Linked DNA regions of Homo sapiens: all the other regions are reported to be linked to region 3. The links are microRNA targets in miRTarBase. Many come from high-throughput screens and were not tested one by one. Region 3 holds a microRNA gene; each other region holds the end of a gene's coding sequence.
Evidence for each region. The annotated mature microRNA hsa-miR-126-5p reads CAUUAUUACUUUUGGUACGCG and lies in region 3 at 906-926, opposite strand. An mRNA with a match to its seed (bases 2 to 7 or 8) in the 3' UTR can be bound and repressed. Matches are read on the target gene's strand: a 7mer-m8 pairs with bases 2 to 8, a 7mer-A1 pairs with bases 2 to 7 and ends in A, and an 8mer does both.

Region 1: the mRNA of MBD2 is a reported target of hsa-miR-126-5p. The part of its 3' UTR that is shown has no 7-base or 8-base seed match.
Region 2: miRTarBase lists METTL8 as a target of hsa-miR-126-5p. Seed matches in the 3' UTR shown: 7mer-A1 at 2,809-2,815.
Region 4: miRTarBase lists NAA50 as a target of hsa-miR-126-5p. Seed matches in the 3' UTR shown: 8mer at 1,673-1,680, 7mer-A1 at 2,079-2,085 and 7mer-m8 at 2,782-2,788.

What each region holds. Positions count from the first base shown.
Region 1 is chr18:54,157,258-54,160,339 of GRCh38, forward strand. It overlaps MBD2 (methyl-CpG binding domain protein 2), which reads right to left. Exons shown (of 7, transcript NM_003927.5): 6 at 2,508-2,646. The coding sequence ends at 2,520. Among named protein-coding and RNA genes, the nearest start is that of SNORA37, 64 kb to the right of the region's middle.
Region 2 is chr2:171,321,530-171,324,630 of GRCh38, reverse strand. METTL8 (methyltransferase 8, tRNA N3-cytidine) reads left to right here. Exons shown (of 10, transcript NM_001321154.2): 10 at 269-3,101. The coding sequence ends at 459. Among named protein-coding and RNA genes, the nearest start is that of METTL8, 110 kb to the left of the region's middle. RefSeq lists an enhancer at 177-276 and a silencer at 358-652.
Region 3 is chr9:136,668,441-136,671,541 of GRCh38, reverse strand. It overlaps MIR126 (microRNA 126), which reads right to left and starts at 940; the gene lies at 856-940. It overlaps EGFL7 (EGF like domain multiple 7), which reads right to left. Exons shown (of 11, transcript NM_016215.5): 5 at 2,869-2,985; 6 at 1,821-1,936; 7 at 1,533-1,628; 8 at 1,212-1,373; 9 at 528-592. RefSeq lists enhancers at 1,108-1,607, 1,608-2,109.
Region 4 is chr3:113,719,113-113,722,213 of GRCh38, reverse strand. NAA50 (N-alpha-acetyltransferase 50, NatE catalytic subunit) reads left to right here. Exons shown (of 5, transcript NM_025146.4): 5 at 277-3,101. The coding sequence ends at 454. Among named protein-coding and RNA genes, the nearest start is that of USF3, 24 kb to the right of the region's middle.

The sequences.
Region 1 (3,082 bases), not on the chromosome of region 3:
AAATGATTTTTTTTTTTTTTTGAGACAGAGTCTCACTCTATCACCCAGGCTGTAGTGCAGTGGCGCGATCTCGGCTCACTGCAACCTCCGCCTCCCAGGTTCAAGCGATTCTCCTGCCTCAGCCTCTCAAGTAGTTGGGATTACAGGTGCCCGCCACCATGCCCAGCTAATTTTTGTATTTTTAGTAGAGACAGGGTTTCGTCATGTTGGCCAGGCTGGTCTCAAACTCCTGACCTCAGGACATCCATCCACCTCAGCCTCCCAAAGTGCTGGGATTATAGGCGTGAGCCACCACACCCAGCCTGAAATGATTCTGTATGGTCAGGAAACTGTGACCCAGAAGTGAGTGCTGCCATGGATGGACATGTAAATGTAAGACATTATATGTATTATTGGATTTTGGTCTTGCTGTGGCATGAAAGATAAAGGCACTATGGAAGGGGATAATTGTGTTAACAATTCAACTCACCCTCCCTGCAATCCCTACCCTTAGCCTGTTCCCCTACCAAACAGAGTTCCCTCCCACCCAGCTCAAGTGATGGCTCAAGTGAAAACCCTGAGGCATCCTCGCCACTCTCTCACCCGCACTTCCAGGCAGTCACCTGGTCACGTGATTCTTTCTCCAGCTATATCTCAGATCTACCCATCTCTTCTTCTCCCAACCTATTGGCATGTCAACATCCTCCTAAAGCCACCATCATCTCTTGCGAGACTACCGCAGCAACATCCCAACTGGTCTCCTTGCTTCCAAGCTTTCCCTACTCCAATCCTTGTATTCATGCAGCAGCCATAGGGCTCTTGTAAAGAAGCAAATCTGATCATGCTACTGACTCTTCAGTGATTCCTGCTAATTTTCATGATCAATCTCAAGTGGTCATCAATCTCCCTAACAACCCACAGGTCCTACGTGACTAGGTTCACCACCCACACATTCCCCCCACCCCTCCCCAGACATACTGCATTCCAACCACGTGGATAATTTCTTCATTCCTTAAAGAAACCAAGTTTCTCCTTGCTGTTCCTTCTAATGGGAACACTTTTACCCAAACCTCTCCTGGCTCACTCCTATATATCTTTCAGGCTCAACATAAATGTCACTTTCTCAGAGAGGCTCTGTTGACCCTTGACATCATATTAGCACCCCATCCCTCCCTCTGTTTTGGCTTCAAAGGAAACTAGTAAATAATTGGTTTTGGGGTGCCAAAAAGGAAGACATGGCCTGCTGAAACAAAGCAGGATGGAAGCCGGGAAGCAAGACGTCACAGAAAGCCTTAAGATCTGCACGTGCTCCTCTGAAGACAAGGTATGCCCATGGCACAGAGCCATGAGCCTGGAATGTGAGTTTGAGATAAGATCAAAATGTGCATTTTTGTTGCTGTTTTTTGAGTCAGAGTCTTACTCCATCCCAGGCTGGAGTGTAGTGGCACAATCTCGGCTCACTGCAACCTCTGCCTCCCGGGTTCAAGCAATTCTCATGTCTCAGCCTCCCGAGTAGCTAGAATTACAAAATTCCAGCTATTCTACCACGCCCAGCTAATTTTTATATTTTTAGTAGAGACAAGGTTTCACCATGTTGGCCAAGCTAGTCTCAAACTCCTGACCTCAAGTGATCCGCCTGCCTTGGCATGCCAAAGCGCTGAGATTACAGGCATGAGCCACCAAACCCAGCCTAAAAATGTGTATTTTTTAAGGTAAAGTATTTATTATACTTTTTAGTGTCCTTCTTGTTCTCCCTGCATCAAATCTGTGCTAGGGAGAATCTAAGAAAAAGAAAGAGATTTTGCCTGCTTTGCCACCATAATTTTAAAGAGGAAGCAATATGCCCTGGATGCTACTGTGATGGAGATGACAGTCACCTTCTTCTTCTGGGGCCGTTCCTCCCTACATGACAAAGTCCTTTTCTTCTGCTGCTGCTCTTCTCTAGTGACACCTTAGAGGCTTTCCACCTGGTCTTAATGAAGGAGACTAGATCCCTTGCAAGTGACTGCAGGGGTGTGAATGTCCTCCCAGTATGAGAACAAAAGAATGCAATAACTTATATGGTCCTTCAATCCAGAGAGAAGAAACAAACAACAGCACATGCAGAACCCGAGCAGAGGAGTAGCTTTTTCATTCACTGCTGAGGAAGCTACAGGGAAAATAACAAGAAAATACAGCGACACCTTTTTTTTTTTTTCTGAGATGGGGTTTCACTCTGTCACCCAGGTTGGAGAACAGTAGCACAATTTTGGCTCACTGAAATTTCTGCCTCCCAGGCTCGAGTGATCCTCCCACCTCAGCCTCCTGAGTAGCTGGAACCACACACACACAACACCACACCCAGTTAATTTTTTGTATTTTGGGTAGAGATGGGGTTTTGCCATGTTGCTCAAGCTGGTCTCGAACTACTGAGCTCAACTGATCGCCCGCCTCAGCCACCCAAGTGCTGGGATTACAGGCAGAAGCACTATGTCCGGCCAAGAAAACACACCTTAAGTTCCAAGTCACTCTCTCTGGTGTCAGTTTACCTGATCATATTCTTAGGCTTCATCTCCACTGTCCATTTCAATATCCATCTCTTCTGTATCAGCAGCTCGCGACAAGATGTCTGCCATCAGTGCTTCTTCCAATTTCTTGCGTACTTGCTGTACTCGCTCTTCCTGTTTCCTTTTTAAAAACAGAATAAAAAGGCACTGAGAATTTGGCAAGTAATGACAATATGAATCTGCTACAGAAGTTCATCCTTACTTCAAAATAATTAAATTCCTAAGAAGAATAGACTTCCTTTTCAGATTTTTGCAGAGGTTGCTTCTACACACAAATCAAACCTCACCAATGAGCCTTGCCAAAAAGAGGAATGTTCACAGAGGCAGTTATCCCTCATCACACATGAAATTCTAGAAAGAGCAGATTGACGTCAGTGACCTTTTCTTCAACTTTGAAAATGTCAACTGTGTCAAGATTTGGGTTTATTCCTATAAGGACAATTAGAAATAACTTAGAAGCAGGAATAAAAGATGGAGGGAACATAAATAACAAAGGAAAAGTGACTTGTTCATAGAAGCACTGAGAAAGATGGAGGAAGCAGAGGCGTGATAAGCTG
Region 2 (3,101 bases), not on the chromosome of region 3:
TATTGAAAGCTGCAACCAATAGTTTTATATATCTGTTGATGTCTGCCGTGTTAGTCTGTAAACAGGTGTATTTTTATATGCATGGTGTATTTTTGTGAAATAGAAGAAACTCGCTTGGTTTCACAGGTTTCCTTCACCAAATTGTTCTAGAGAGTGTTTCTTGTATAAATGAAATTTAGATGGTCAGTTATTCCATCAGTGTTCTACTCCTGACCTCCCCCATCTCTAGTCACATGTCATATCTTTTATTGCCATTTTTGTCTCACAGGGGAAGTCCACAGTATGTTCTGCAAAGCCAGTTTAGATGAAAAGCAAAATCTGGTTGATCGCCGCTTACAAGTTAATAGGAAAAAACAAGTGAAAATGCACCGAGTGTGGATTCAAGGCAAATTCCAGAAACCATTGCACCAGACTCAGAATAGCTCCAATATGGTATCTACACTCCTTTCACAAGACTGAACTTTGTAACATGTTAAGGTACAAAGCCAGAGGACTGTGCTATTCAAGGACTACTGTAAGTCTATTGTTTCTCAAAAGACAATGAGAAAAAAAGAAGAGAATTTGTATTTCCTGCCGTTTTGTCATAGGTGAGCTCCTTTGTGCATTTTAAGCACATGTAAGTGGTTCAGCACAGTATGCCTTTTTCTGTGCTTTGAAAACTTGATATGCTCAAGCTTGTTTGAATTTATTACATCTAACCATTTTGCTTGTTCCTTGATTTTTATAAGCATTCAATTAAGTTAGTATTATGTCAAGTAATTTTGAGAAAATGTAACTTGACATTTTTTGCAAGTAAAAAAAATTGTTTATTTGTTTAGGCTTAGTAAACCAGTTCCCAAACACAGTCAGACTCTTCCCATTGTCATCTGATTGCAGAGAGAAAGCACACCTTATTTCCAGGGAAAGCTACAACAAGCCCAAGGTCAAAGTGTATTATTTTTTGTCTTGTTGTTGTCTATTTTCTCCCAATTTTTTTTTGAAATTCAGAGGCTCATATCTGAAATAGAATTTTAGTTCCTCTTTCCTTTCCTAAAATTGGGGAAGTACAGCCCATGCTGACATTATTTTCAGGCTATTCTTAGATATACAAGTTGTTAGGCCAGGTGCAATGGCTCGCACCTGTAATCCCAGCACTTTGGGGGGCTGAGGCAGGCAGATCGGTTGAGCTCAGGAGTTCAAGACCAGCCTGGACAACATGGCAAAACCCTGTCTCTCCCAAGAATACAAAAATTAGCCAGGCATGGTGGCACACACCTGTGGTCCCAGCTACTCAGGAGACTGAGGTGGGAGGATCGCTTGAGCCTCGGAGGCGGAGGTTGCAGTGAGCTGAGATTGTACCACTGCGCTCCAAACTGGGTGACATGGTGAGACCTTGTCTCCAAAAAAAAAAAAAAAAAAAAAAAAGGTATGTAAGCTGACAAGCTCTTGTATCAAGGGCTTTTGAACCAGAGCAACTTCATCTTGAATAGGGACTGTGTAAAATGAAGCTGAGACCTACTAGGCTGCAATCCCAGGAGGTTAAGACATTCTTAGTCACAGGATGAGATAGGAAGTCAGTACAAGATACAGGTCATACAGACCTTGCTGATAAAACAGGTTGCAGTGAAGAAGCCGGCCAAATGCCACCAAAACCAAGATGGCAATGAGAGTGTCCTCTGGCTGTCCTCACTGCTACACTCCCACCAGTGCCATGATAGTTTACAAATGCCATGGCAACATCAGGAAGTTACCCATATGGTCTACAAAGGGGAGGCCTGAATAATCCACCCCTTGTGTAGCATATAATCAAGAAATAACCTTAAAAATGGGCAACCAGTAGCCCTTGGGGCTGCTCTGCCTATGGAGTAGCCATTCTTTATGTTTTACTTTTTTTTTTTTTTTTTTTTTGAGATGGAGTCTTGCTCTGGCACCCAGGCTGGAGTGCAGTGGCGTGATCTCAGCTCACTGCCAGCTCCACCTCCCGGGTTCACGCCATTCTCTTGCTTCAGCCTCCTGAGTAGCTGGGACTACAAGCACCCACCACCATGCCCAGCTAATTTTTTTTTTTTTTGTATTTTTAGTAGAGACGGGGTTTCACCATGTTAGCCAGGATGGTCTCAATCTCCTGACCTTGTGATCCGCCCGCCTCGGCCTCCCAAAGTGCTGGGATTACAGGTGTGAGCCACCGCGCCCAGCCTATTCTTTACTTAAACTTGTTTTCACTTTGCTGTATGGACTCAATTCTTTCTTGCACAAGATCCAAGAATCCTCTCTTGGCGTCTGGATCCAGACCCTTTCTGGTATCAGTGGTAAGCTCTGTTTAAGACAACTGTCATACCCAAGAGAATTCTTAAATTGTGGCAGTTAAAAATGTATTTATCCCCTCGAGGGCCGGGCGCAGTCGCTCAAGCCCGTAATCCCAGCACTTTGGGAGGCCGAGGAGGCGGATCATGAGGTCAGGAGTTCAAGACCAGCCTGACCAACACTGTGAAACCCTGTCTCTACTAAAAATACAAAAAAAATTAGCCAGGCGTGGTGGTGGGCACCTGTAATCCCAGCTACTCGGGAGGCTGAGGCAGGAGAATCACTTGAACCCGGGAGGCAGAGGTTGCAGTGAGCCGAGATGACACCACTGCCCTCCAGCCTGGGTGACAGTTGTTAGACTGCGTATCAAAAAAAAAAAAAAAAATTTATTTACTCCCTTGCTTCAAAAAGGACATAAGTTGGCTTGCAAATCACATTTTGTAGAAATGAAGTTTTTAAGATTAGTCTCATACTCATTACATAATATTTATTGACTACTTACATATTGAGTGCTAAATTCAGTGGAATAATATGAACAATAAAGACCCAGCCTTGTTTATGCTCTTCAGGGAGCATAAATAGAGTACAGCTGGCAAAACAAAATGTGCATATCCCAAACCTGTAAATCATGATCTAAGACAATATACAAACACTCAAATAGGGAACTTACCAGCTAGCAGACTTTGATTATGAACCACAGAACCTAGAATAAATAAATACTCTCTTGAAAGAACCATCATTGGAATAATTAAGTTCCAACTGTTTTTTCTTTCTGAATTCACTTAAAATCCAATTTCTAGAAGAATATCATTGGTCCA
Region 3 (3,101 bases):
GGGGGGTCCTGGTCAGTGTCCAGCTGCTTCTGCCCAGCATGGATCCAGGCCAGGGCCCCCTCGGCAGTCAGCAGCGAGGAAGCCACCTCCCCAGGGCCAGGACCTTTTCAGACCACCCCCAGCCATCCGTGGGTCGGGACCATGTCCCAGGAGACTACGGAGCCTGTACCCGGGCCTGGGCCTCTGCTGTTGTGAAGACCTGCCCCCTGCCGACGTCTCACCTCCTCCAGCAGGTCCACCCTGGACTGCCTGCCTCCCCCCCCGACGCCTCATCTCCTCCAGCAGGTCCACCCTGGACTGCCTGCCCCCCCGACGCCTCACCTCCTCCAGCAGGTCCACCCTGGACTGCCTGCCCCCCCGACGCCTCACCTCCTCCAGCAGGTCCACCCTGGACTGCCTGCCTACCCCCCCGATGCCTCACCTCCTCCAGCAGGTTCACCCTGGACTGCCTGCCCCTCCACACCTCACCTCCTCCAGCAGGTCCACCCTGGACTGCCTGCCCCCCCCCCCCCCCACCAATGCCTCACCTCCTCCAGCAGGTCCACCCTGGACTGCAGCCTCTGCACTTCTTCCTTCATTGCACTGTCCACTCCTGCGGGCAGAGCCAGGCGCTGGGTCACGGCCGGCCGGCTCCCCACCCACACCCCCAGGCTCCCTCCTGTCCCCAGGGAGAGGCAGAGCCAGAAGACTCAGGCCCAGGCCTCTGCCGCCCCCGCTGCCTGCCTGGCGCTGGCCAGAGGTCTCAGGGCTATGCCGCCTAAGTACGTCGGGGCGGGTGGCTCTGCGCAGAGGCTCAGGGTCCCGGCCACGCTGAGGGAGGTCAAGGCTGAGGTCTCAGCGGCGTTTTCGATGCGGTGCCGTGGACGGCGCATTATTACTCACGGTACGAGTTTGAAGTGTCACAGCGCGTACCAAAAGTAATAATGTCCCGTCGCCAGCGGAGGCGTGGCGTCTTCCAGAATGCTGCGCTGGATGCAGACAGGACCCCGGGACGGGGCACTTCTGCCTTCTTGGCTGATATGAGGCTCCGGGCAACCTGCCCCCAGTTCTCGGGAACCCACCTATCCTCCCTCCCCATCCTCCCTCCCTGGAGAGGGAGTCCCCACCGCCTTCCGCCCAGATTCCAGTGCCCCCCACCATGCCTAACAGCCACACGGCAATGTCCACTGCCTGCCCGCCTCCCCAGGCCAGGCACAGCCAGGGCTGTTTACCTGTCGGGTTGGGGGCCACCCTGGGGGGCCCTCCCTTGGGCACACAGAGTGTACCGTCTGCAGACAGGCTGTGCCCCTCCCAACACTGGCACCAGTAACTGCCGGCGGTGTTGACGCAGCGCTGGGGACAGCCGCCCCTCCTAGCACTGCATTCATCCACATCTGCAGGAAACGGGGTGTCAGGCGGCCATGCCTGCGGGAGGGGTCCTGCCCACACAGCTCCCTTCACAACCACCCACTCATGGGCCAGCAGTAACCCCAGGACATGCAAGGAGGTGCCCAGGACCCTTCCAGGGCCCCCCAGGGTAGAGCCAGCCTCACCTGACTGGCAAGTGTCACCCCGCCATCCTGCAGGGCAGCGGCAGCGGCCAGGCTGGACACAGCTCCCTCCGTTCCGGCATGGCGGCTGGCATATTGCTGTGGGCGGGGGAGGCTGGTCACCAGCTCAGTTGGGTCCCCAGCACCCTGTGGGGGCAGCTGCTAGGGAGTGGGTGCTCTGCGGCAAGGTGGTGCTTTGCTCGGGGTTCAAGAAAAGCAGCAGGAGCGTTGCTGGAAGATTGGGGAACAGTCGCCCTCCTAACACCGGGCGCCGAGGGACATAGCCCTCACCTGCTCCACAGGCCCCAGGAAGCCCGCTGGTCCTCTTCCAGCCGGGGCAGCACGCGTAGCGAGGCCTGGCAGGGGCCAGCCCAGGGCTGCGGCGGTAGGCGGTCCTATAGATGGTTCTGTGGGGTGGGTGGGACAGCTCAGAGGGGCATCCTACTCCCCCTTAGTCACCTGCTGGGCATCTAGAGTCCCCTCTCAGAGTGCACAGGGTCACCCCAGCATGCCCCCAAGGGTCTTCTCCTCAAGGGATGGCACTGAGGGGTCACTGCACAGCCGTTTCCCTGCCTGGGCCTTCCGGTGCTGGCCGGGACTCAAGCCACAGCAGGAAGGCCCAGCCACACTCCGCATGGAGCAGAGGCAGTGGCCAGGCCTGTGTGTGCCCCCACCTATCTGGTCTCCTACTGTGGGGGCATCCAGGCCCAGAGGAGAGGGTGTGCCCGGCCTACGGCGAGTCACGGCAGAGTGTGGGCCCTGGGCATCGGAGCCCTTCTTAAACCTCCAGAAGTCTGAATTCCCAGGCCCCTCCCCCAGCAGGGGGTGGAGCTCCCACACCCAGGAAGGAGGACTCTGAGACTTAGGGGTGTGTGCCCCTTGTGTGGGCATACAGGACATTTCAGGGTCTCATCTGTGCCCACTGGGGGCCGTCATGTGGAGGGGGGTGCCCAGTGGAGTGGGACCAGGGGAGTCAGGCACCATTCTGTGTATATGGGAACTTGCAGCCAGGGATGCCAGGGTAGGGAGGGGTTAGTCCCCCGGAAGTGGAGGGGTGCAGACAGGATGGGTGACCCCTCTAAACATGGGGATGCTCTTAGAGGTGCGGTCCTTTGAGACGTGTCGGGGCAAGAGCAAGGATTAGGACACTGGAGGTGATCGTGGAACCCCTTGGCTCCGGCCGCCCTGGGTCGCCCATCTCAGGCAGCCCTCTCATGGCTCTGGCCTCAGTTTCCCATCTTGGGTCCCAGGATTCACCCCCGCCTCGCCCCTGACATGCTGATGTGTGGCCGACTTGGGAGGCTGGGGCTGGGTGAGCTCGGTGTGGTGGGGCACTCACCGGTAGGTGCTGCAGGCCCGGTGCCCGTCGCAGGTGGTGAGGAAGGGCTGGTACACACGCTGCACGAACGACTCGGAGACAGGGTCCCCGTGAGCCCGGACAGCACACACCCTACGGCTGCGGGGGTGGAGAGGGGGTCAGCCCAGGAGTCCCAGAGCAGGACCCAAGAATGATGGGAACATGTGGCCGGGGCAGGACCCTCAGCAGGAGCCCCCAGGGAGTCCCCGACAGGT
Region 4 (3,101 bases), not on the chromosome of region 3:
GAAAAAATTTTGATAGCTGTGGTACTTTTCCCTTTGTTGACTACAAGAATAAACACTGAGCCTTCTAATCTCAGCCAGCTGTCTTACAAATGTAAAAATTAGATTAAAAGTGTAAAATTGTCATCAAAAGGTTTTAGGTAAGCATGCCTAACCCTTGTTGATTACTGGTAGTTGTAAAGAGAATGTAACAGATGTTTGGAGCTATCTGTGGAGAATGCTTAAAACTTGATGAAACCTTAATTTTAATTTTTTTTCTGATACTCTCTTATATCTCAGGCATGTCCAGATCAGCAATGAGTCGGCAATTGACTTCTACAGGAAGTTTGGCTTTGAGATTATTGAGACAAAGAAGAACTACTATAAGAGGATAGAGCCCGCAGATGCTCATGTGCTGCAGAAAAACCTCAAAGTTCCTTCTGGTCAGAATGCAGATGTGCAAAAGACAGACAACTGAACAAATTACAAATGAACTTTCTTGCACTTGCTTGTCGCCAAATAAAAGAGAGGCCCATTGATTCCTCCCCCACCCCAACACTTTTCTTTTAAAGCTTTTCTCCCTCCTTGTTCTTGTTTTTCTTTCTTCCTTTCCTTTTCTCTGAGAGTTTTAATACTTTCAAGGACTTTAAAAAAATAATCATGTTTGAATTGTTTTCTCTTATTTTTGTGAGGTGGTTTGAAGGAAGGACAAGGTAGATCTGTTTAGTTTTGCAGTTGAAGTTAGATGGTCCTAAACATTTAATTGTCAAATAATTTCAAATTTAATGTCCTGCTTTCACATTGAAGGGCAGAGCCTACAAAACATTGTATATTTCAAAAGACAAAAAGAAGCAGCAGCAGTATCTTGTTCTCTAATTCATAGACAAGTTGAGTGTGTTTGTGGTACTTTGGGTTTTTAAACACTTTGGGATACTAATCCCTAGACATTGCCTTCACTCCACCTTTAGTCCTTCTGAGCACTCTCTCGGGAGTTGGAACATTGTTATCCTTGTAAGAAATACTAAGCTTATGTTGATTTTTAAGTAATTATATCTTCTCTTCTTGCTGGTGGGTGGGGCAGTTTGGTTTAGTGTTATACTTTGGTCTAAGTATTTGAGTTAAACTGCTTTTTTGCTAATGAGTGGGCTGGTTGTTAGCAGGTTTGTTTTTCCTGCTGTTGATTGTTACTAGTGGCATTAACTTTTAGAATTTGGGCTGGTGAGATTAATTTTTTTTAATATCCCAGCTAGAGATATGGCCTTTAACTGACCTAAAGAGGTGTGTTGTGATTTAATTTTTTCCCGTTCCTTTTTCTTCAGTAAACCCAACAATAGTCTAACCTTAAAAATTGAGTTGATGTCCTTATAGGTCACTACCCCTAAATAAACCTGAAGCAGGTGTTTTCTCTTGGACATACTAAAAAATACCTAAAAGGAAGCTTAGATGGGCTGTGACACAAAAAATTCAATTACTGTCATCTAATGCCAGCTGTTAAAAGTGTGGCCACTGAGCATTTGATTTTATAGGAAAAAATAGTATTTTTGAGAATAACATAGCTGTGCTATTGCACATCTGTTGGAGGACATCCCAGATTTGCTTATACTCAGTGCCTGTGATATTGAGTTTAAGGATTTGAGGCAGGGGTAATTATTAAACATATTGCTTCTATTCTTGGAAAAATAGAAGTGTAAAATGTTAATAATACAAATGTCACTGTGACCTCCTCCACTGAGAGGACTGGTTTATGCCAGATCATTTTCCGGCACACACGGAGTGGCTTTGACAGATTGATAACTTTGTAAGATGGGAGACATCTGAAATATTCATGTTTTCCTTTTGTAGTCCCATCTCCACTATTTAGAAATGTTCTCAGACTTTAAAATAATGCACAGGGCTTGAGCTTTCTGTCATTTGACTTTAAAAGGAAGTTTCATTCATATTTATCCTCTTATGTAAAATTGCGGTATAAAGTCTCATTTCCAAATATGTTAAATGACAAAATTATTTTATAAAATGTTTATGCACACTTTATAACCTTAAGTTTTTATTTGAGAATGTGAAAGTACAAAGTGCAGTAGACTTCAACAATCTTGAGTGCCAAGAATAATACAGAAAAAGAAGACAGTTGATGAATGAGTTTATAGGGTTCTAATCTTAAGATGGTAAAAATGTAGAAAGACCTTGCTGGTTTTTTGGGGGTATTCGTTTCTTAAACAATCCAAATCTAAGCTTAGAAGAAAAGTTTAGCGTTAAGCACCTTTATCTTCATGAATAAGCTTCAGCTTGCTCTTGGCAAGAGAAGAGTGCTTGAGTTACAGAAGGCATAAGTAGTTTGAAGAATGCAGCAGCCTTTTTGTAAACTTCCCAGATATCAAAATAGACTTTGATATATAAATGGTTTTCTGAGATGACACTGCCTCTATTTCTATAACCATTTCACCTGGACTATCTAATCAGTCCTATGAATGTATCCCTAAATGTGGTTATTGAAAACCTAATAGCTGCCTCATGACAAGTACATGTTATTTAAGGAGGAAAAAATATTAAATTTTGAATTGAGTGTGTAGGCTCCCTATCATTATATATAGAGTTTCTTTTTCCACGGTAGTCAGTGACTTAACCTGAATTGTAAATGTTTGTAAAGGGTTAATTGTCCTACATCAAACTTAGTTAAATAATTCCATCCACTTATGGAGGAGGAGGAGAATGTGGAAGAGGTAAAAAGCTGGGCACAAGTTCATATGCCTATGAGTCAGTAAAGACTGAAGTAATGTCCTATGTTGAGCTGGTTATTTTGATATATGATAATAATTATCTTTGAAGTAGAACAATTCTGTTAACTGGAAAATCACAGGATATATCCATCATATTTTTCAGGACAGATAGTTTTTACTGTGGGGCAAATAGGTTAAAATTACACTATGTTAGTTGCATTTAGGTTTTAAAGCAAAGAATCTGTAGAGAAATCTATGCAATATATAGTTTGTCCAGATTAGCTTTCATTTGGGGAATGAAGTTCTGAAATATCTAAAGCAGTTTACTCATCAATTGAAAAGTCCTCCAAAAAGAGAACTATTGGGAAACCATGGTGTGGTGGTGGAAAAGAAAAGCTCCCTCAGTTTTTT